Linked DNA regions of Homo sapiens: region 1 is linked to region 2. The links come from fine-mapping of genetic effects on plasma protein levels. A gene starts in region 2. The other region holds a variant in brackets. All regions are shown on one strand. Distances are between the middles of the regions. Region 1 overlaps RSRC1 (arginine and serine rich coiled-coil 1). Region 2 holds the start of LXN (latexin).

What was found. A credible set is the group of variants that fine-mapping cannot tell apart. PIP is the chance, under the fine-mapping model, that this variant and not a neighbour inherited with it causes the effect. The UK Biobank Pharma Proteomics Project read protein levels with antibody pairs (Olink). The fine-mapping took linkage between variants from a reference panel, not from the people measured, so its PIPs are less certain.
Region 1: its variant is the best candidate, but not a certain one, in a credible set for the plasma level of the LXN protein (UK Biobank, PIP 0.73).

Annotation. Positions count from the first base shown.
Region 1 is chr3:158,138,384-158,155,369 of GRCh38, reverse strand. The region is part of intron 3 of RSRC1 (arginine and serine rich coiled-coil 1); the gene reads right to left. Among named protein-coding and RNA genes, the nearest start is that of RSRC1, 37 kb to the right of the region's middle. The variant A/T (reference allele first, on the strand shown) is at 8,784.
Region 2 is chr3:158,667,683-158,675,682 of GRCh38, reverse strand. It overlaps LXN (latexin), which reads left to right and starts at 3,035. Exons shown (of 6, transcript NM_020169.4): 1 at 3,035-3,333; 2 at 4,664-4,726; 3 at 6,073-6,250; 4 at 6,551-6,687. The coding sequence starts at 3,205. All of the region lies in intron 13 of GFM1 (G elongation factor mitochondrial 1), which reads right to left. RefSeq lists enhancers at 2,662-2,851, 3,162-3,211, 2,633-3,225, 3,652-3,711, 3,226-3,818.

The DNA of each region.
Region 1 (16,986 bases), 520 kb after region 2:
AATATTGTTTCCATGTCTGCTAACACCACATTCATTCTGTAGTCCCTGAATCAAGGAGTAATTTTGACTTTCAAGTGTTACTATTTAAGAAATACATTTTGTAAGGCTATAGCTGCCATAGATAGTGACTTCTCTGATGAATCTGGGCAAAGTAAATCGAAAACCTTCTGGAAAAAATTCACCATTCTAGATGCCATTAAGAACATTTCTGATTCACAGGAGGAAGTCAAAATAGCAAAATTAACAGGAGTATGGAAGAAGTTGACTCCAAGACCCTTATGTGTGACTGTGAGGAAGAAGACTTCAGTGGAGGAAGTCATTGCAGGTGTGGTGGCAATAACAAAACAAAACAAAACAAAAAACAGAATTAGAAGTGGAGCCTGAAGATGTGACTGAATGGATTCAATTTCATGATCAAATGTGAACAAATGAAGAGTTGCTTCTTATGGATGAGCAAAAAAGTGGTTTCTTGAGATAGAATCCACTGCTGGTGAAGATGCTGTAAATACTGCTGAAATCACGGCAAAGGATTTAAATGTTACATAAACTTAGTTGATAAAGCAGCAGCAGGGTTTGAGAAGACTGACTCTAATTTTGAAAGAAGTTCTGGCCGGGCGCAGTGGCTCACGCCTGTAATCGAGCACTTTGGAAGGCAGAGGTGGGCGGATCATGAGGTCAAGAGATCGAGACCATCCTGGCCAACATGGTGAAAACCTGTCTCTACTAAAAATACAAAAATTAGCTGGGCATGGTGGCATGAGCCTGTAGTCCCAGCTACTCAGGAGGCTGAGACAGGAGAATTGCTTGAACCCGGGAGGCAGAGGTTGCAGTGAGCCGAGATCACACCACTGCACTCCAGACTAGGTGACAGAGTGAGACTCCCTCTCAAAAAAAAAAAAAAGTTCTATGATCGGTAAAATACTAGACAACAGCATCAATTGCTACAGAGAAATCTTTCATTTAAAAAAGGGTCAATCAATGTAGCAAACTTTATTGTTGTCTTATTTTAAATTGCCACCGCCACCCCAACCTTCAGCAACCGCCACCATGATCAGTGGGCAGCCATCAACATCAAGGCAAGACCCTCACCAGCAAAAAGATTATGACTCACCGAAGGCTCAAATGATCATTAGCATTTTTAAGCAATAAGGTATTTTTAAATTAAGGTATGTACATTGTTTTTTAAACACAATGCTATTACATACTTAACAGACTATGGTATAGAGTAAACATAACTTCTATATGCACTGGGAAACAAAAAAATTCATATGACTTGCTTTATTGCAATATTCACCTTCTTGTGGTGGTGTGGATACAAACCTGCAATATCTCTGAGGTATAGCTGTCCAGTCAAGGATTCAGGTTGTTTTAAATTTGGAGTTTTATTGGGGAAATATCTAAAGAAGAATGGAAAGCTATATTTTCACATTTTGCATACATGTATCCCAGTCTCATAATTATCCTGGGATTTCTCATCATATAAATTTACTCTACCTAAGATCACATACCACATGAGCAACAGACAAAGAGAAGTTTTATATACCAATAACAATCAAGACTCTCAAAAACAAGCTCCTCAATCCAAAAAGACAATCTTGGTTCACAAACTTTACAGTATAGGTTCGACACAGTGAACATAATTATGCTAGAGGTATTCGGCTTTCCTTAAACATCACACCTATTCAGATGCTGGTCAAACTCAACCTTTCTTAGATTGTAAGATCCAACAAGATCAAAGACCAACGGGGCATGACTACCAAGTAACTCCACCATCTATTTATCCTTAATACAGTGCTTTCTGAAATCATGTCTTCTAGCTTTATGGCAACCTCAAGGAAACTCTTAAAATCACTTATTAAGTTACAGCATTACCCTGCAACACAATACCATGCCACATTGTCATTCTTTAGTTACAGCAGAAACATTGTGGCTAGCAAGAGACTGTGGAGTTTCCCTGATGTTTTATTTAAGAATGAAAAATTTTAAAATAGTTCAAGAAAAGAAGCAGAAAATAACCAATAAATAGGGGGGTGGGAATTGCCTCTACTGGCAACTCTACAAGAAGAGAGTTCCATACCCATCCTCAAGTGTCTCCAAAGAGAAAGAGTTGCAGATCACTTTGATGGTTAAGAGAATCTCTAGAAGAGGCACTTAAGTAACTGACACAAGATTTAAGCTACATAGTTAGTAGCAAATAAGCAAATGTGACTGAGAATTTGCTCAGTCAATACAAATACAGAAGGTATAGGGAGAAAGTTGCTTTAAAAAGGACAGAAAGGGTTGCCCAGAGGTAGGTTGTCTGGAAAACTCCACCTGCTTTCCTCAGGACTTTACTATACCTGAGAAATTTACAGAGCATTTAGTTCCTAGATACATATAGTGCCCACTTAGGCATCTTTACATTTATTATTCTAAACTTTCCAAGTGTTAGGGTTATTAGATCTACTAAGATCATAATTAAAAGATGTCCTATAAAATGGCTTTTAAGCCTAAGATAAAACATGTACAATAATCAAATACAACAGAAGCCAAATACTCATTCAAATGTGAAATCAGCTCCTCAGTTAAAACTAAAAGTCATATTATTAAACGTGAAACTACAAGACTACAGGATCAATTTTTAATTCACATCTCATTTACTTCTGGGAAGAAGAAATAAATTTAGAAGATAATATGTACTCACATGTATCTCACTTTAGGCAACAGACACGAACTGGAAACATTGAGTAATCAAACATTTATATACCAAATTAACTCCTACACAAATTCTGAGATGAATTCATTCCAAGAGAATACTGATGGGAAGAACAATATCAACTTTATTGGTACAGCTTTTATTATTTTCAAAATACTTTCACAAAATATAATATGATCTTTACATCAATTCTGTGAAAAAGACAGAGGAGACATTTAATTCCAGTCACTTACTGAACAGTTACTAAGTGCCAGCCAAGAGCTAGCCACTAGTGATACTACTGGAATGACTAACATCCTGCTTGGCCCAGGACTGAAGAGTTTCTTGGGACATGGAACTTTCAGTGCTAAAACAAAGTCCCCGGCAAGCCAAGATGGTTGGTCACCCTAGCAAAAATCAATACGGCACAGACACTGTCCTCAAGGAGCTCACTATTTAATATTATGATTCCCTAAAACTGAAGTTCAGCTAAGTTCAATTATTTGCCTAAGGTCAAACAGCTAATAAGAGAAACAGAGTCCAGAGAAACCAGGTCTTCCAACTCCTACTTTATACTCGTCTCCTATATTATTCAATATCTGAAAAAAAAAAACATTTTGCCCATAAGATATGATTTTTAATTTTTATAAGTACAGAAAATTAAATATACAAATACACTAGACAGAGATTTAATACCTCAAGCCATAATCAAAGGCTCTAACTTATCTATCACACTTAAAAAGAACCTAACAAGTTTCATTTTACTCTACAATATTAAATATATGTTACATAGTTAAATCATAATGCCAAGGACTTTTGTGAGGTTTCTTATACTACCCTAGTATATTTTAATTAACATTCATTCATTGAGCAATACTTGTACAGTATTTACTGTACAGTATTTACTGACTACATATAATGACACTGTGTCCTCCCAGAACTTTTTGCATGCCTAAAAGGGTAGCATTTACATATCAGAAGCATAATCATGTTCATATATGTTTTCTCACTAGATTTTAAGAATACTGGTTCTGCATTCACACCGCGCAGCACAGGACCTACCACCTAGTTGGCATTTATTTGATGGCATTCAGGACATATGTACTTGGGCAGGACACACTCCCCCAAAACATTTTAAGCTGAACATATCTGGGAAAAACAAAGAAGCTGGAAAGGCAGCCTCTGTTCTCCCTCTTCCCCTTCTCCCCTGAAGTAGGTCATGAACACTACAAAAGCTTTCTGACCTAGTCAGGAAGCAAGTCGCAAGATCCTCACTGAAGAGGTGCCCTCCATATCCCCAAAAGAAAGAAACATCCTAATCTTTGAAGACACAAAGTCACAGAGTAGAATCTGAACAAACAGGCCTTGCTAAATTCCCCCCAGCTGACTAACATTAGATCACACTTTTTTATCCAATCATGCTTCACGATTATCCACTTCCTCATCAAGCCCAGCATAAAATATACACAGATTTACCCCTTTCTTCATGTCTTCATTTCCTTATGAAGGCTCCTGTGTCACTTTATTTATTATAGTAAATAAATCTGTATGCTTCTCTCTTGTTAATCTGTCTTTTGTTGCAGGGGCCTCCGCCATGCACCTGGCAATGCGTGAGAAAAAGATATTTTTTCTCCCCTACACATTCAAAGGATAAATATAAGGTATATGGGCAATATCAAGTAAAATACTCATAGGGAATATATAATTTAGTTAGAGATGTACATAAATAACCTCACTGAAGTAATGGCAAATCTGACTGGTATAGGTTATGAAGTTACCAGGAATTTAAAAGAGAAAGAAGATGAATTCCTTACAAAGAATCCTATGCCCAAATAATATCTTACACAGAACCCTAACATACAAGAAAATTAGATATAGATCTGTTCCAGTTAAAGCACCCCTCGCTCCCAAACAAAAGAAAAACTCATGGCAGTCCCGGAAGCACCTCCACAGATTTCCAAAACTCCACAGATTAAAGATCAATTCTAGCTCCAAAATACTTCCCAAAATGCTTTCCCACTCCAACTACCAAGCTAAGCCAAGGAACAACCCTCTCTTATAGTCTCTTACATATCATCCTAATTGATATCAAGACCTACTACTGTCCCTAACACATAATATTAATATAAGCTCAATAAATATTGTGTGAAATGGAAAAAAACACAACCAGACAGCTTATTAAATGAAGATCTTCATTTCAATTAGCAAATAATATTACTATATTTAGAACATTTCAATTTCTTATAGTCTTTGCTGTTCCAAATAATGTTCACCATTTTTAGAAACTGTGTTCAAGTCAGAAATACTCAGCTTTGTGATTTCCCCCAAATACAAAGTAAATCCAACCCTTTTCTTTGGTTTTATGCTATGGGGACAAAGGCAAATAACAAACATAATCTTATACTGGTGCAATAAATGGACCCACCTTAATTAAAAGGATGTCTAAAATAACTGGCAAGTCTAACAGTTATGATTCAATTAAAAACTTTCAGCCTTTAATCTATCATATCCTTTAAACAGCACTAGCAGTTGGCAAGAGCAATTCAGCATTACAACTTGGTCCTTTACAACTTTTCCCTGCTTTTTCTACAATGAATGATAAAATTAACCAAAAACCTTTTGGAACAAAAAAGTTTACATAAGAGAAGACCCTTAAAACAGGCTTTTAATTTGAAAATAAAATGTTAACAGAGATGTAGAATATTAAAGATAAACACCACAGAAATCCTCTTTATCTTCAGTGCATTTTAATGAGAATAAAACATTTCCTAAAAGTTACTGAACTTGAAAAACAAAATTGTGTTACAGGGTTATGCTGTCACTCAGTTGAGTGCTTTCAGAGTTCCCTTGAGGTTGCCAGAACAATAGGAACATGATTTTTCAAAGTGCTGTATTAGGAATAAATAGACATGGTAGTTACTTGATAGCCATGCCCCCTTGGTCTTTGATCCTGATGGGTTTTACAATCTAAGAAAGGTTGGTTTCAACCAGAGTTGGAATAGGTATAATGTTTAAGGAAATCTGAATACCTATAGCATCATGTTCACTATGTTGAACCTATACCTAATTTTCTCAAATAATTTACCCTCTTCCCTCCAAATATATTTTACCCTCAAATACGAATAAGTGAATGTGCATGTATTCACCTTTAAGAATTTCATTTCCTTTTATAGTCTGTTCACTTAGACCATCGCATCTGCAACAAGCATGCCATTCCCACATCCCCTATCAAGCTCTACAACCAAGATATAGCCTAGTCACGCGTGACCAAACCAGATGGGAATACCTGATCTTAAGGCAGGCAGTCCACAGCTGGCCAGCAACCCTTGATATAGCTCATCCCATATAAGAATTATTAGTTGAGTCAATCAGATTCCCTCACTCAGGAATGTAAAGTGGGATATACTGAGAAAATGATGCAGTTAGAAGAAAGAACTAAAGCTAAAATAGAAATATCAAAGGAGCTTTGATGATCATTCAGTATGCTCAACTATAAACACTTAAGAGTAAAAAGAAACTATAAAGAAAAGATAAACTGTACTCAGTAGTAGGTAAAGAAGCTATAAAGTAGTAAACCGAAAGTACAGCAAATACATAAAAGCATACATTTGTGACTGGGCGCAGTGGCTCACGCCTGTAATCCCAGCACTTTGGAAGGCTGAGGTGGGTGGATCACCTGAGGTCAGGAGTTCGAGACCAGCCTGACCAACATGGTGAAACCCCGTCTCTATTAAAAGTACAAAAATTAGCCAGGCGTGGCGGCATGTGCCTGTAATCTCAGCTACTCGGGAGGCTGAGGTAGGAGACTCACTTGAACCTGGGAGGTGGAGGCTGCAGTGAGCCGAGATCGCGCCATTGCACTCTAGCCTGGGCAATAAGAGTGAAACTCCATCTCAAAAAAAAAAAAAAGTATATATTCGTATACAAATGTATAAAGTAGCTGAGGCAATCCAGTTCTGCAGAACTAGAATGAAATACCGTCTTTTTTTATTTTTTATTTTTTGCTTTTCTTTCTTAACTCTTCCCTCAGCAGAATCAACTCACAAACACCTTGTTGCTAAGGGCTCCTAGAGAATAAACAACTGATTAAAAGATGAGTTTATGACATTCAAAACTTGGCAAAGTAGTTAGTAACCCCAATTTACAGATGAATAAACAAGCCCAGAGAGAAGTCAAAATACATGGTTCTAAGTCATGAAAAAGGGATTGAAATCCAGGTCCTGTGACTCCTAATCTAACACTATTGATATCTTACTGTACTGTTTCTCTGAGTCATGTCTAAGGCTTCCAGTTACACCTCATGTGCCGCATACACACACACACACACACGCACACACACACACACCTTTTAAGAACAAATTTGGATCTTGCACATTTTATGAGGAGAATGATCAAATTGCTTCTCCAACCCAACTGAACATTCCAATGACCCCATACAATTATTGATACATGTTTACCAATAGTCTTACATGCACCAAACAAGAAGAGCTACAAAGGGGACAGATAAAGGGAAATACATAGGAAGCATATCATTTACTCTTTTTAAAAAAGTTCCTGGGGTTTATAATCCCAGATAATAGGTAAGTATACATCAATTACCTGTACCACGTTTAATAGTAACAATATCTCAAAGCTATTCAAGTTGTTCCACGGACCAGTGCTAGTCCACAAACTAGTACAGTTCACGATGGGATAAAGAAATTAAGAATAAGAGTTTAGAAAATTTTATAGTTATTGGACACAACTATAACATTTTTATTGCATTTTTAAAAATATTAGTCTGCAATGGATTGAAAATATAGAGTTTAAAAAAAGTCCTTTACCACAGATAATTTGAGAAGCACTGCTAGACTACATAAACAGAATTAGTATGATTCCCTACACAGCCAGATTATAATATGAGAATTTCTCCTATTGTTCAACTAAATGTATACTTCTAAAACGTACACTTTTGAATTTGGAAAAAAATTTGAACAAACCAATAATGTAGTAGGAAACTGGGATACCATTCAGGAAATACTTTTTAAATTTGTTTTTGGAGGCTGATTATTGTACATGACTTAACCACATGAAAAAATAATCTATTTTCTGTTTTCTTCTAGGTTACAAAAAAATGAAAACTGCTACTTTGAGGTCAAAGATAAATTTAAAGTTAGGTTTTTTGAAAAATAAAAAAAAAAGAAAATTTATTAAAGATATGGAACATAGATTTCCTGAAGTATGACAATGGCTTAAATGTGGAGATAGGTAAATACAAAAACATGAGTTGATGGCCAGAAGATGAGTACCAAAACATCAAAATAATGATGGAATTGTAGTCCCAGCTACTCAGGAGGTTGAGATGAGAGGATCAATTGAGCCCAGGTGGTCAAGGTTGCAGTGAGCTGTGACTGCACCACTGCATTCAAACCTGGGTGACAGAGCAAGATGCTGTCTCACACATGGAAAAAAATAATAATGGCATTATGTGATATAAGAAAATTTCCTTTTAGCGGGTAGAGATTTAAAGTGAAGTACACATTTGTAAAATAACACAGTGTCCCATTTTGCTTTGAAATACATCAGCAAAAAAAAAAAAAAAAAAAAAAAAAAAGGCAGAAAAGCAGAAGAAAGAAAAGGAAGAAGATGGAGAGGGAGGGGGAGGCAGCAGCACTACCACCAGCAACAGCAGCAGCACAAGCAGCCATGGGGAAAATCTTGGTAACTGTTCAATCTAGGTACTGTGTATATATTGTATTTCTTCTCTTGAGTATGTTTGAAATTTTCTTAATAAAAAAGCCAATCTTAGCTAGAAATATTTCTATTTCTGTGGATAAATTCCTCGACACATACACCCTCCCAAGACTAAACCAGGAAGAAGCTAAATCTCTGAATAGACCAATAACAGGCTCTGAAATTGAGGCAATAATTAATAGCTTACCAACCAAAAACAGTCCAGGACCAGATGGATTCACAGCTGAATTCTACCAGAGGTACAAGGAGGAGCTGGTACCATTCCTTCTGAAACTATTCCAATCAATAGAAAAAGAGGGAATCCTGCCTAACTCATTTTATGAGGCCAGCATCATCCTGATACCAAAGCCTGGCAGAGACACAACAAAAAAAGAGA[A/T]TTTTAGACCTATATCCCTGATGTACATTGACACAAAAATCCTCAATAAAATACTGGCAAACCGAACCCAGCAGCACATCAAAAAGCTTATCCACCATGATCAAGTAGGCTTCATCCCTGGGATGCAAGGCTGGTTCAACATACGCAAATCAATAAACGTAATCCAGCATATAAACAGAACCAATGACAAAAACCACATGATTATCTCAATAGATGCAGAAAAGGCCTTCGACAAAATTCAACAGCCCTTCATGCTAAAAACTCTCAATAAATTAGATATTGATGGGACGTATCTCAAAATAATAAGAGCTATTAATGACAAACCCACAGCCAATATCATACTGAATGGGCAAGAACTGGAAGCATTCCCTTTGAAAACTGGCACAAGACAGGGAGGCCCTCTCTCACCACTCCTATTCAACATAGTGTTGGAAGTTCTGACCAGGGCAATCAGGCAGGAGAAAGGAATAAAGGGTATTCAATTAGGAAAAGAGAAGTCAAATTCTCCCTGTTTGCAGATGACATGATTGTATATCCAGAAAACCCCATCATCTCAGCCCAAAATCTCCTTAAGCTGATAAGCAACTTCAGCAAAGTCTCAGGATACAAAATCAATGTGCAAACATCACAAGCATTCTTATACACCAATAACAGACAAACAGAGAGCCACATGAGTGAACTCCCATTCACAATTGCTTCAAAGAGAATAAAATACCTAGGAATCCAACTTACAAGGGATGTGAAGGACCTCTTCAAGGAGAGCTACAAATCACTGCTCAACGAAATAAAAGAGGATACAAACAAATGGAAGAACATTCCATGTTCATGGATAGGAAGAAGCAATATCGTGAAAATGGCCATACTGCCCAAGGTAATTTATAGATTCAATGCCATCCCCATCAAGCTGCCAATGACTTTCTTCACAGAATTGAAAAAAACTACTTTAAAGTTCATATGGAACCAAAAAAGAGCCCGCATTGCCAAGTCAATCCTAAGCCAAAAGAATAAAGCTGGAGGCATCATGCTACCTGACTTCAAACTATACTACAAGGTTACAGTAACCAAAACAGCATGGTACTGCTACCAAAACAGAGATATAGCCCAATGGAACAGAACAGAGCCCTCAGAAATAATACCACATATCTACAACTATCTGATCTTTGACAAACCTGACAAAAACAAGAAATGGGGAAAGGATTCCCTATATAACAAATGGTGCTGGGAAAACTGGCTAGCCATATGTAGAAAGCTGAAACTGGATCCCTTCCTTACACCTTATACAAAAATTAATTCAAGATGGATTAAAGACTTAAACCTTAGATCTAAAACCAGAAAAACCCTAGAAGAAAACCTAGGCAATACCATTCAGGACTTAGGCATGGGCAAGGACTTCATGTCTAAAACACCAAAAGCAATGGCAACAAAAGCCAAAATTGACAAATGGGATCTAATTAAACTCAAGAGCTTCTGCACAGCAAAAGAAACTACCATCAGAGTGAACAGGCAACCTACAGAATGGGAGAAAATGTTTGCAATCTACTCATCTGACAAAGGGCTAATATCCAGAATCTACAAAGAACTCAAACAAATTTACAAGAAAAAAACAACCCCATCAACAAGTGGGCAAAGGATATGAACAGACACTTCTCAAAAGAAGACATTTATTCAGCCAACAGACACAAGAAAAAATGCTCATCATCACTGGCCATCAGAGAAAGGCAAATCAAAACCTCAATGAGATACCATCTCACACCAGTAAGAATGGCGATCATTAGAAAGTCAGGAAACAACAGGTGCCGGAGAGGATGTGGAGAAATAGGAACACTTTTACACTGTTGGGGGGACTGTAAACTAGTTCAACCATTGTGGAAGTCAGTGTGGCGATTCTTCAGGGATCTAGAACTAGAAATACCATTTGACCCAGCAATCCCATTACTGGGTATATATCCAAAGGATTATAAATCATGCTGCTATAAAGACACATGCACATGTATGTTTACTGCGGCACTATTCACAATAGCAAAGACTTGGAACCAACCCAAATGTCCATCAGTGATAGACTGGATTAAGAAAACGTGGCACATATACACCATGGAATACTATGCAGCCGTAAAAAATGATGAGTTCATGTCCTTTGTAGGGACATGGATGAAGCTGGAAACCATCATTCTCAGCAAACTATCGCAAGGACAAAAAACCAAACACTGCATGTTCTCACTCACAGGTGGGAATTGAACAATGAGAACACTTGGACACAGGAAGGGGAACATCACACACCGGGGACTGTTGAGGGGTGGGAGGAGGGGGGAGGGATAGCATTAGGAGATACAGCTAATGTAAATGACGAGTTAATGGGTGCAGCACACCAACATGGCACAAGTATACATATGTAACAAACCTGCACGTTGTGCACATGTACCCTAAAACTTAAAGTATAATAAAATAATTTAAAAAAAATTTCTATTTCTGAAAGAAATGAAGGTGTTTATTCTACTTACAATCCCTTACAATTTAAAAATAAAATCTATGTATTTAATGTCCTTTGATGGACTTTACAAAGCATCAGTAAAGGGAAACACTAAAAAGTACTTTTAAAAACAATACCAGGAAATAATATAGAGGATGTTCAAAGTGTAACAACACCAATTCAGTCATATTTTTAGCTTTTTCTACAGCTAGTAATAATAAAAGCCAACATAGTAGCAGACATTTACCATTAATGATTACTAGAGCCTTTGGCATTGCCATATGAAGTTTAATTCCCCAAAGTTGTCAATTATAGCTTGGTAATATCCTCTTGGTGGGATATTGCTTGAAGATACAGAAGGCTTTTCTACCAGCTTCCTTCCTGCTTTATTACCCCTAATTCAAGGTTTGTTTTTTGTTTTTGTTTTTCATTTCCACTCAAAGTTCAGAAATCATGACTGCTAAAAAATTTGGAGAATACTATGTTAGTAACATAACAATCACTATTGCCTAAAAAAATTTTATAAGCTATTGTTTTATTGATAGACATGAACCTAGTCATATACAATCCTTGATTTCTAAGAATTTAAACAATTGAGTAAAAAGTGAATTCCAAAATACTTTTCATTTAAAAAAATAAGTAATGTCCCTACTATTTAACTTTGATATACATATTCTTGAAGTGGCATTAAAAGAACCACATCATGCTATCTCCTAGGGGAAAACAAATACTTAAGGTCAGATATTCAATGCATTACTCTTTCAGATAGTACCATTCCCTTCAATCTTTTCTTTAAAAGTGGAAAGGCCATCTCTGATCAGTAATTTTAAAGCCTGCCTGAATCCCTTTCAAAGATTTTATCTCAAAACCTAAAAGTATATTATTAATATTTTTCTGAAGGTTCCCTCCAAGATTTCAAACAATCAACCAGGATTTTAGAAACTAACATCCTGGGAATAAGTGTTAGACTTGAACTGGTCTAGCATATACCTGACGATGCACACAACTCTTCTTCTGGAGGTAGAGATAATCAAACAAAGGTTAGACTTTCAAAAAGCCTCCTTAACAAAGGCCTCAAGTAGATTACTTTTTTAAATACCTGTATTGGAAATGTAGAAGTCAATCATTCATTCAATCTACTGAATCTACTATTAGGATGCTGAAATACAATGTTAGGTACCACCATGCTAGGAACTGATGATACAAAATTAGTAAGACTTGATCGCTGTCTTAAGGGAAGCCTACGACACAAGTGAGGGAGAGAGAGGCACTTGAAAAAACTGGCATTTTCTTCATCCCTCCAAATCTCATGTTGAAATATAATCCCCAGTGTTGGAGGTGGACCCTGGTGGGAGGTGTATGGGTCATCAGGGTGGATCTCTCATGAACGGCATGAACGGCATGGTGCTGTCCTCAAGATAGTGAGTTCTACGGAGATCTGGTTTGTTTAAAAGGGTGTGACACTTTTCCTACTCTCTCTTGCTCCCACTCTCACCATGTGATGTGCTGGCTCCCCCTTCACCTTTCACCACGTTTATAAACTTCCTGAGGCCCTCACTAGAAGCAGGTGTTGGCACTATGCATCATATCTACCCTGCAGAACTGTGAGCCAACTAAACTAAACCTCTTTTCTCTATACTACTCAGTCTCAGGTATTCCTTTTTAAGTGATGCAAGAATGGACTAACCGTTGGTACGAAAAATAAACTACTCCAAAAGTACTCCACAATGAACCATTCCAAGATGGCTACAGGATCAACCCACTTAATATTTTTATAAGTTATCTAGAACAAGAAACAATACTGAAATCTTCTAATATGAAGATGATGAGAAATGTCAATACTAACAAAGATCAACAATTAGAAAAACTAGGGAGATATATATAAAGAAACAAAAATCTACAATGAAGGTAAGCATAATATAATAGATTTAATGGATAATAAAACTTTCAAATCATGATGATTAAGTTCTTAAAAATCCTCATGGTAGGAGAAATCTTTCTTTCTTTCTTTCTTTCTTTTTTGAGACGGAGTCTCGCTCTGTTGCCCAGGCTGGAGTGCAGTGGCACACTCTTGGCTCACTGCAACCTCTGCCTCCTCGGTTCAAGCGATTCTCCTGCCTCAGCCTCCAGAGTAGCTGGGACTACAGGCGTGCACCACCACGCCCGGCTAATTATTGTATTTTTAGTAGAGACGGGGTTTCACCATATTGGCCAGGCTGGTCTCGAACTCCTGAGCTCAAGTGATCCGCCCATATCGGCCTCCCAAAGTGCTGGGATTACAGGCATGAGCCACCACGCCTGGCCGAGAAATCTTAGATAAAGAACTCATAACCTAATCTTTTAATGAGATTGCAAAACAATCTATAATGGTTCACAAATGCTTTATATTCCCTAAAATGAAATGCGGGGAACAAAGAAGACACTGAATAGCTACCAATGGTATTTCTCTACCCTAAACTGGTAATAAGCTACACTCTTAAGTAGTATTAGAACTTAAGATGAAATAGGTAAATACATGGGGCTAAAATAAGAAGGAAAGGATGTAGTTAGTTACTGGGAAGGACCTGCCTCCTACCTTAGCTCATAGATATTTACACTTGCATAGTCATTTAAGTTTAATTCTAAAAGCTGCTTGAATATTTCTGACATTAGCATAAATGTGTCCTTAACCAGGAGGTCCATGGAGTTTTAGGACTTCTGTGAATCCTGTTAAAGAACATGCAAAATTATGCATGTAAATATATGAAATTTTACGTAAAGATGATCCATACTTCTCATCAGATTCACCCTTTGACATCACACTATACCTGATGTGACCCAAGAAAGGTTAAGAATCAACCAGCAACCAGATTTTCCTGCCATGATCCAAAAAAACTGGAATTTTCTCCATCCTTTGGATAAAGCATGGAATAGAAGCTGTGGACTTCTTTTGAAAGTCTCTTTACACTTCATTATTGGCTATAATTCATTCACACCTCATCTGAAGGTCCATTCTTAGACTTTGCTTAGACATTTTCTCAAAATAGGGACTTTAAAAACATCCATACCTATTAATTCCTATAAAAAGCTTTGATTTTTAAAAAGCATTTGAGGCAAAATGTTAGTTACCAGTTTTATAAATTAATAAAAATGCTCCGTGATACTACAGCTCTCTGGTGCCTGAGAGCTTTGCTTCCATAGTCAATATTCCTCAAGCTTGATTACAGGAGAGTCATTTTAAATCCTCTCTAGCAGGAAGAGTCTTTTCCTTTATATAACACTACTAGACATTTACCTGGGCAGTAATATCTCTAACAGCATAAACAATGTTTCTTTTTAATCTTTTCTTGCCCAATATCACAAAGGCTACAAATACCACATGGTAGTACACGTAGCACAATGATAAAATATAATACATTTTCATGATACTTAGTATATATGTGACCAATCACCTAAGAGGAAATTGGCAGAAGAACAAAAGTAGAAACAAGTGACTCAGATGTCCAGCAGAGGTTCTGAAAAACATATACAGTACAGAAGTAAATTTACATTAGATCTGAATTCCAAATAAGGCAAACTCATAAATGAGAAGGGATTATTACACTCATAAAATAAGAGAGCTCTGGAAAGAGATCTGGGAGTCATTATATACTGTTTCCTGAACAGTAACATGTCCAATGTGCTGTTACAGTCAGAAAGGCCAATGGTAATAGTGGCCATTAGCAGAGTGCATATCGGAAACAGAAAACAAAATACTACCTAAGTCTATTTTATATAAAACCATTTCTTAACAAGAGCCTGACAATCCATGTAAGGAAAATAAAATTTTTAGGAAGGTAAGGGCTGGGGGCCTCCCGTATGAAAGTGAACTATAAAACTTTTAAATCTACAGCCTGAAAATAATGCTGAAAGGTAACTGACTCAAAATGCACAGATTCCAAAGGCAAGAGGTAGTGACAGAGGGTGAACACAAATTATTTCACAAATAACAGAACCAGTGAAAACCCCAAAATCTCAAGTTTGGAGAAGAAATTAATTTATAGAGTAGAGGATGCTAATAGGTTATTTCGTAACTTCTTCTCACAATAATCCTGTGAGGAAAAAATTTACCATGTATTTCAACACAAATCTTTGGAAGAAAGATTAGAATGCAAAATGTCCTTCCCATATTTATTTTAAAAAGAAAAAAAATACTAATTGGATATTCAGGCCCAGCATGGTGGCTCAAGCCTGTAAATCCAAGCACTTTGGGAGGCCAAGGCGGGCAGATTACTTGAGACCAGTTCAAGACCAGCCTGGCCAACATGGGGAAACCATCATCTCTACTAAAAATACAGAAATTAGCTGGGCGTGGTGGCACACGCCTGTCATCTCAGCTACTCGGGAGGCTGAGGAAAGAGAATCACTTGAGCCTGGGAGGCGGAGGTTGCAGTAAGCCGAGATCATGCTACTGCACTCCAGCCTGGGCGAAAGAGCGAGGCTCCATCTCAAAAAAAAAAAAAAAGACTAATGGGATTCAGTAAAAAGCATCATTAGCTATTAATTTCACGTCTCTGTGAATGCAGTTTATTCTAAGTATTAAACACACACAAGAAGTTACTGAAGTTCACCACCATCAGGAACATACAATTTAATATGCAGTTTCGTATGGTACTATCTGCACTTCCTGATGTAGTTGTAGGCTTGCAGCACCCACAAGATAAACATGCTTATTAAAATAAAATTTTTTTTTTTCCAGACTAAGTCTTGCTCTGTTGCCCGGACTGGAGTGCAGTGGCGCGATCTCAGCTCACTGCAACCTCCACCGCCCAGGTTCAAGTGATTCTCCTGCCCTGCCTTAGCCTCCTGAGTAGCTGGGATTACAGGCACCCGTCACCAGGCCCAGCTAATTTTTGTATTTTTAGTAGAGACAGGGTTTCACCATGTTGGCCAGGCTGGTCTCGAACTCCTGACATCAGATGATCCACCTGCCTGAGCCTCCCAAAGTGCTGGGATTACAGGTGTGAGCTACCGTGTCCGGCCAAAATAAAATATTCATTCTCAAAAAATTATAGTAAGTACTAGAAGAAAATGTCATCAAATATTAAGCAGTGTTTTTAGAAAACAGAACAAATATGATGATCTTTTAAGAAACAGATTTATAAATACTCTAGACCCTTCCTCACCAAACAATGAGTGAAACATAGACTAAACAAAATGAAAGTAAAGAGAATAATTAAGGAATTATTTACTTAAAATCAACCCCACCATAAAACACACAACAGTTTACCTACTTTTAAACTACTTAAATATTTTAAGTAATCATTATTAATTTTTTGGCAAGATTCTACAATTCTGCAATTTCACAGGAATGACTTGGGGAAAATAATTTTAACTTAATGAATTATCCTTTTCCTCCTGAATACATCATGGAATATAGGAAACATTATTTTCTATAGTTTGTTATAACACAATGATGGAAAAGAATAAGTAAACAAAGATATAGAGAAAAAATAAAAAGGAAATCTTATGACAATAAGTTCATTTAAAGCAGGGACTGCATTTAAGTGTTTGCCACATTCAAGGAGCCACCCAATAAAACTGCTTAGTAGTTAGTTAAATCTAATAGTAGTGCTTATGTCAAGCCACCTTGGTAAACTCTGGGCTGGGCCCTGCCCAGGAAACAAAGCACACCCCACATAGAATTCTCTCAATCTTTCCGTCACGCTGCATAAATGAGGCACAAGAAATAGCAAGAAATTTGGTACTGCCAAAACA
Region 2 (8,000 bases):
AAGATTAAAACTCCTTTAAAAGACATCTGTATTAAAATTTTATTTAAACACCATTTTATATTTTGTAATCTTATACAACTGATTGAATCAGTAACTTGTTTGGCCCATTTGATCAATATATAAAATTTAGAAAGTTTAGATCATGAAAAGATCAAATTCAGTTTTATATGAACTTGGAATATTTTATCATTATGTAATAAAACCTGGAAGACATATAATCAACTTTAAATAAATATTATTTTGTTACAGCTCACCCAAATTCATCTATTAATCAGAAATATTTTATACATTTTTAAAAATATAATTTATAAACTTTATATTCAAAAATCATTAAATCATGTTTAAGAGCTCCTCTTTTATCTTGAAAACTTGTTTTTTTTTTTTTTTTTTTTTTTTTGAGATGGAGTCTCACTCTGTCACCCAGGCTGGAGTGCAGTGGCATGATCTCCACTCACTGCAACCTCCGCCTCCTGGGTTCAAGCAGTTCCCTGCCTCAGCCTCCCGAGTAGCTGGGATTACAGGCGCCCGCCGCCACGCCCGGCTAATTTTTGTATTTTAAGTAGAGACGGGGTTTCACCATATTGGCCAGGCTGGTCTTGAACTCTTGACCTCGTGACCCACCTGCGTTGGCCTCCCAAAGTGCTGGGATTACAGGCGTGAGCCACTGCTCCCGGCCGTAAACTTGCTCCTTATAAACATAATAATAAAGGCTATTTAAGTTCATTTGACCACATTAATTTTTACACATTTTTTAAAGCACAATGATTTTTTTCTTAGACATTTTTGGCTGTTTATTTGGACTAGATATTCCTGGACTGCACATATAATGACAGAATGACTTAGTCTCATGAATCATCTTTCAAATTTTTAATGAAAGAAAATGAGAAACAGGAAAAGGTGAGCTACAGCCAGTTTTAGACAAATATGAAATTATCACTGTAAAACGCTAATTATCTTTTCTTTTCAAGGAGAGAGGAAAAAGCTTAAATATAAGCCATGTTATTAATAAAAAACCTTGAAGTATGGAAATAAAATATGGGCAGTCTTCTACTTAAAATGCTCTTAGACAAATAAGACAAATACTGTTCTCCGAAAGTCTTATTTTTTTATTTCTGGTGTTCTTCTAAAGTGTCTCTCAAATGAACAGTCTTCTTCATGTCAAAGTTCCCCAAATTTCACCAATTCTTTGGTAAATTTATCCCAGGAGACAGTGTAAGTTCGTATCTGACAACCCCATCGAAAATTGGCTGATATTCTGTATTTGCAAAAATATTGCCATGGGTGGGTCAGGGTTTAACAAATGCTGAACTAAGAAACGTGGAGAGGCCAGGCACGGTGGCTCATGCCTGTAATCCTAACACTTTGGGAGGCAGAGGAGGGAGGATTGCCTGAACTCAACATGGTGAAACCCCATCTCTACTAAAATACAAAAAAATTAGCCAGGTGTGGTGAAGTGCACCTGTAGTCCCAGATACTAGGGAGGCTGAGGCAGGAGAAATGCTTGAACCTGGGAGGTGGAGGTTGCAGTGAGCCGAGATCACGCCACTGCACTGCAGCCTAGGCAACAGAGCGAAACTCTGTCTCCAAAAAAAAAAAAAAAAAGGTCATGTGTGAAAGACAGTGTCTCGCAAAGCAAATTTCTCATACACGGACAAGACTGAGAAAAGTTTCATTGACATTTGATACAAGATGATGGGCAAGCAGACAGATGGTATTTAAAGGCAAAGTCAATCAGAACCCCCAAATCCCAGGAGACAATAATAAGCATGAAACTGAGGCCAAAGTCCAGAATCCAGATTTACTGCAGAATCTACATAATCAGAAAGAGATACACCTCAAGAGTCTTGGGTGTGTGCATTACTACCAAGTTAAAGGTCCTGGCCAGGCATGGTGGCTTATGCCTGTAATCCCAGCACTTTGGGAGGCTAAGGTGGGTGGATCACCTGAGGTCAGGAGTTTGAGACCAGCCTAGCCTAAACCCGTCTCTACTAAAAATACAAAAAACTAGCCGGGCATTGTGGTGGGCACCTGTAATCCCAGCTACTCTGGAGGCTGAGGCAGGAGAACTGCTTGAACCCAGGAGGCGGACGTTGCAGTGAGCCGAGATAGCACCATTGCACTCCAGCCTAGGCAACAAGAGTGAAATTCCATCTCAAAAAAAAAAAAAAAAAAAAGAAAAGAAAAGAAAAAAAGGTCTCAATCCAGGCAGCGAAGACCTTGGCCAAACTTTGGTAGAATCTCCAAGTTATCCTAGCCCAATTAACCTAAGACCACCAAGGATAAACCTGTACTTCTACAAAGTCAGGTTTATAGGCCCATTGCAATGAGGTAGACCACATACCAGAGAGAGTGCTTTGTATAAGTTCAGTTTTTAAGTTTATTTTAATCCTTGAAGTAAAATATTCAAAATGACTCAAGTTGGAAGCATGGCGTTACATCAAAACTTATCATTTTAAGATTAGTAAAGGAGAGGGGTACAGGTGCATTTTTTTATTTCTCCTGATCCAAATTACATAATCTCCCAATTTAATACTATAGTTTGCAGATTCTCATACTTTGATTTGGGCAGAACTGGTCCAAACCCACAAAAAGCTGAGGATGAGCAAGCCTCTTCCTGGACTCTCATAAGGGGAAGGGAAATGAAGGAATCGAATCACTACCTGGAGTACTGTGTACCTTGCCCTGCCAGGGACGCTGCATGCGGTGTATAAGGAAGTTGTGCTCCAGTATGCAAGCGAAGCAACCAGACTTTTTTCCCATGGACAGGAAACTAGAGTCTTCAGAGATGTCCTATATCAGCGAAAGCCCCACCCTGCACTTCTATAAAGGTTAATGAAACGAAAGATGCAATCCCAGCGAACCTAGCCCACTGACTCCCTCCCCACACCTCCACCTGCTGGTGCCTGACAAGCATGCTGGCCTCTCCTCCAGTAGGAACCAGCAGGCGGAGTAAGGAAGCCCGCTGCAGGCAGTAGTGGGGCGGGGCCTCAGAAGCAGTCAGCCCAGGGCTCTCGGATGCAGGGAGCCTGGGCCCAAACAGCAGCTTCCGGAGTCGGAAGGAGCTGAGGAAGAAGACTGACTGAAGGAGCTTGCGACTTTTCCGCCTCGGCAACCGGACCCAGCAGCAAGCAGGACGGGCGGCGCTCTGCTACTGGTCCCGTTAAGCCAGAGTAGCCCAAGCCCTGAAGTCACTGCTCATCCGGAATGGAAATCCCGCCGACCAACTACCCAGCCTCCAGGGCGGCCTTGGTGGCACAGAACTACATCAACTACCAGCAGGGGACCCCGCACAGGGTGTTTGAGGTGCAGAAGGTCAAACAAGCCAGCATGGAGGTGAGTTTAGCAGGGGGTGGTGGACAGCAGAGGCTTCAGGATTGCGCTCCCTCCACTCACCCGCGGTCTCAGCCTTTGGGTGCAGACACTCCGTGCCACCCCCTACCCACCTTCTGTTTTAGGACACACTGCTGGTATCTGGTCTTGAGATATTAAGGTTTCTGGGGGAATGTCTATACTCCAGTCTCTGGAGACAGCCCGGGACTGTTTTCACCTTAAGGCAGAGACAAAGTTTTTACGCACACAGTTACAAGAAAACGGGAACACGCTCTAGGTAAGGGGCAGCACTTTCCTTAAGTGTAAACTGTAGAAACCATTCAAAAGACTACTAAGGCTGCCACGTTTCTCATCTGCTACTCTGATCTGGACCAACAAAAGCTCCCATCTTCCAAGACTCTATTGCCTACATTTTAAGACAAATCCTTATCAGACCCTTTGACCAAAATGAAGGGGGAAACAAACAGCAAGAGAAACTGACAATCAAAGTCAAAGAATAAAAGCACTGTGGGCTGACGCTGGCCTTTAGCCACCCAAACACCGCTACCACATGACTGCCTTAAATGATGTGCACCCTCTGCTAAAGGCTTGAATTAAATGTTTAAGGCCTCAGCAATCACTAACGAGGTTTGTTTTCATTTTACGAAAATCTACTGGATTTGAGATTATCCCTTATTTATCTGACAGAATTTTAACTGCTAACAGTCTTTTAGAGGTGACACAGTAGATCTTATTTTGAAACTGTACCAGATAACAGAATTAGGTATAAATTTTCAATCTGTATCTTGATTTAAAAGTGAAATACCATTTCTTAGTCTTATATAATTTGTTAATCATTTTGCAGTTTCACTAATGTATAAGTAAAAACAATACTTAATTGTATTAAGTCTCCAATTGCTTTGCAGTAATCTGCCTCAAAATGAAATTCACATTCATTGAACATTATTTGGAGGGTACACTGAGCTTTATGAAAAAATCTTTTCAAAGGTGATATTGTCATCTTTAGAATTAAACGCTGTTTCAAACTTTCTTATGTAGAGACTTTAAGATCACAGATCCAGGGGTTAAATAAAGTCTTTTGATGATTGAAAGTGAATTGTGCCCAATTTGTATGCTTTTATCCTACTCTTTTGTTTTCATCCAAAATAAACTTGATAGGGGACTTGCTAAATTAGATGTTACATTCATGGTGACATGCCTTTTTCAAGACCTAAGGCTTTCACCATTCCCCTTCAGCCAGCCCCTCCAACCAAATGAGATGCATACTTCTAACAATGCAAGTATAATGTTGTTATAATATTTTCTTGTCTCCACTACATTTTCTTAATTTTAGGATATTCCAGGAAGAGGACATAAGTATCACCTTAAATTTGCTGTTGAAGAAATTATACAAAAAGTAAGTTAAATTTCTTTTTTCTTTGAGACAGGGTCTCACTCTATCACCCAGGCTGAAGTGCAGTGGCAGAACATGGCTCACTGCAGCCTCAACTTCCCGGGCTCAGGCCATCTTCCCACCTCAGCCTCCCCAAATAGCTGGGACCACAGGTGCATGCCACTACACCTGGCTAATTTTTGTGATCCTCCTGCCTCTGCCTCCCAAAGTGCTAGGATTACAAGCATGAGCTACCAAGCCCAGCCAAAATGTTCTTATTAAACAAATTTAATTCTAAATATTCCAGATCATCTTTGCTGATCAAATCTGTAAGATTGATTAGTTTTACCTCTTTTTAAAAAGTTGTTGTGAAATACCTGCCTCTGAAAAACACTGACCATATGGGCAAAGTTTACAAGGATCAGTTCTTTACTATCTTTGGGTATTCCTAGGTATATGAATTATTTCTACCAAACTACACAAAAAAAGACTATACACTTCAGTTCAAATGAATTTCTTAAGAAGTTACATACTCTTAGGGCAGTCTGAACTTATGCCTAATATAAATGAGTGAAGTAATTTATTCCCCAATCAATCATCTTCTTAACGTCTGCTTTTCTCATTCTATTTTTCACTGGGTTTTTAGAGAAAGAACGTGCTCTTAGATATTCAGAAGCAATAGAATGCCAGCTGATACCACCATTCAGATGAAGATCTTTCAGTAATGGGGAAGGGAAATTTTAAAGATTATACACAACTGTCAAATTATTAATGAGACAAACTTAAAAGAAAGGAACTGCAATCTGTACCACAGCCATCTTGAAATTTTAAAAAGCTTGCCTTTCTGTTGAGCATAATTCATAAAGAGATTCATTAAAAGGCATCTGAGCTGCTAGACAGCCATCTTTACAAAGCATAACCCAATGCCATAATCTTCTAATTTTATATCCAGACACAGACTGCTGCATCTGCATTTCAAAAACTTTGTTATTTCAGGAGCAAAGAGTAAGAGTAATGGAAAAACTTTAAAAGTAACCAGTCTTGAGTTGGTATATAAAGTCAGATTAAAATCTGGCCTTGCAAATGGACACCCCATTAATACTGAAATATACTGAAAGTTTTAAGACTAGAATTCATAAGATTATGACACCATATCATTTATAAAGTAAGTTATCTATTTTAGGGTATTCACATGATAAGTCTAGAATTTAATAGGCCAGGCCCAATTAGATACCTCTGAAAACAAGCACTTTGAAGTCTAGTCTAAAACAACACCATTAGGAGCCTATGCTTTAAATCATATCTCAAAGATGATAATTAATAATGAATAGCCTTCTGTATATAAGGATATTTTGCTAAATTTCAAACAGCAAGTTAAGGTGAACTGCACAGCTGAAGTACTTTACCCTTCAACGGGACAAGAAACTGCACCAGAAGTCAACTTCACATTTGAAGGAGAAACTGGAAAGAATCCAGATGAAGAAGACAACACATTTTATCAAAGACTTAAGTCCATGAAGGAACCGCTAGAAGCACAAAATATTCCAGGTATATAAATATGGCATGAAAACCATTTGTTTGATTCAAACTTAAAATCAATCTCAATTATCTGTGCTTAAAATTGTTAGTTGCTAAGTATGTTAGAAACTTACAGGCTTTTGCAAAAATACTCATTTCTAATCCAATCCAACAAAAAAGAGGCCTCAGAAATTTTATAGATCCATAGCTTAATTAAATTATTTTTTGCACAACATTCGAAGGAAACTAAGACATGATTTAGAATTTAGATTTTGTTTTAAAAGGTTAATACTATATATATGATTATCATATAAATGTGTCTCCTACCAGACAATTTTGGAAATGTATCTCCAGAAATGACGCTCGTTCTACATTTAGCCTGGGTTGCCTGTGGTTATATAATATGGCAAAATTCTACTGAAGACACATGGTATAAAATGGTAAAAATTCAAACTGTCAAGCAAGTGGTAAGTAGTTTCTATAAAATACACTATTAATGGGGTTAATATTTATCGAAAGTATTGTAATTCATAATTGGATTAACAGTATTCCTATAGTCATTTTGTATTTAATAGCAAACCTGGGATTTCAAAGGGGAGGTCAGGTACAATCAAGATTAGAGAAGGTGAAGAATTGTAGGAAGAGTCCAAAGCAACAGTAACTGGTCTAAAAAGTTGTTTGATTTGGCTGAGAGATGCAAACCACAGGCCTCCTTTGCCTCAAACTTGCCTAATAACTGTGCTTTGTTAGTTGCATGCTCTGGGAACATAGAGACTAGGAAGCATAACAAAAGCAAGGCAAAGCCAAGGATTTCAGTGAAACACTTCCTGTTAATACACAGTATCTAGACTGCACTTTCAAAAAGCATCACGGTAATCATAGCTCTTAATCTTTCGGGTTAGTCAAGTCAGATTTAACTATGATACTTTCCTCAAACCCTCTTCTAGAACAAAAAGGTTGAGAGAGTTTTATTAGTAGCAGCAAGACAGAATCCCAGGTGTACAATATACAGTCAGGCCTCTCCATGGGTTCTGCATCTATGGATACAAACAACCGAGAATCAAAAATATTTGGGGGAAAAAAATGGATGGTAGCATCTGTACTGAACATGCACAGATTTTTTTCTCGTCATGATTCCCTAAGTAATATAACAACTATTTATATAACATTTAGATTGTATTTGGTATTATAAGTAATCTAGAGATGATTTAAAGTATATGAGAAGGTATGCATAGGTTATACGCAAATACTACACTGTTTTATGTCAGAGACTTGGGCATCCGTGCATTTTGGTATCTGAGGGGAATCTTGGAACCAATCCTCCATGGATACTAAGGGACAATTGTAATGACTCTCCTCACCTTTAATCTGCTCTATAGAGATCCTCAGGGCCACTTTTTATGGCAGTCACAAGCAAAGCTGTGCTTTCAGAAGAGTGAAGTCTTGAGTTATAATCCAACATTTAGCTTTTGTGCTCAGCTTAATACAGATTATTTCCCTTAGCAATCTAAGTTTTGTGTTCAAATTACTATAGTCATGCCATACTGAAACTATCTGTTTTTTCCCTCTACTGTACAGTACAGAAAAAAGCTTTAATTACACAATCACACAACTACACTCACTACATTTTACTATTCTCAGGTGTTCTGGTTTTTTTGTTTGTTTGCCTGTTTTTGAGACAGGGTTTCACTCTGTTGCCCAGGCTGGAGTGCATTAGTGTGATCATGGCTCGCTGCAGCCTCAATCTCCCAGGCTCAGGCGGTCCTCCCACCTCAGCCTC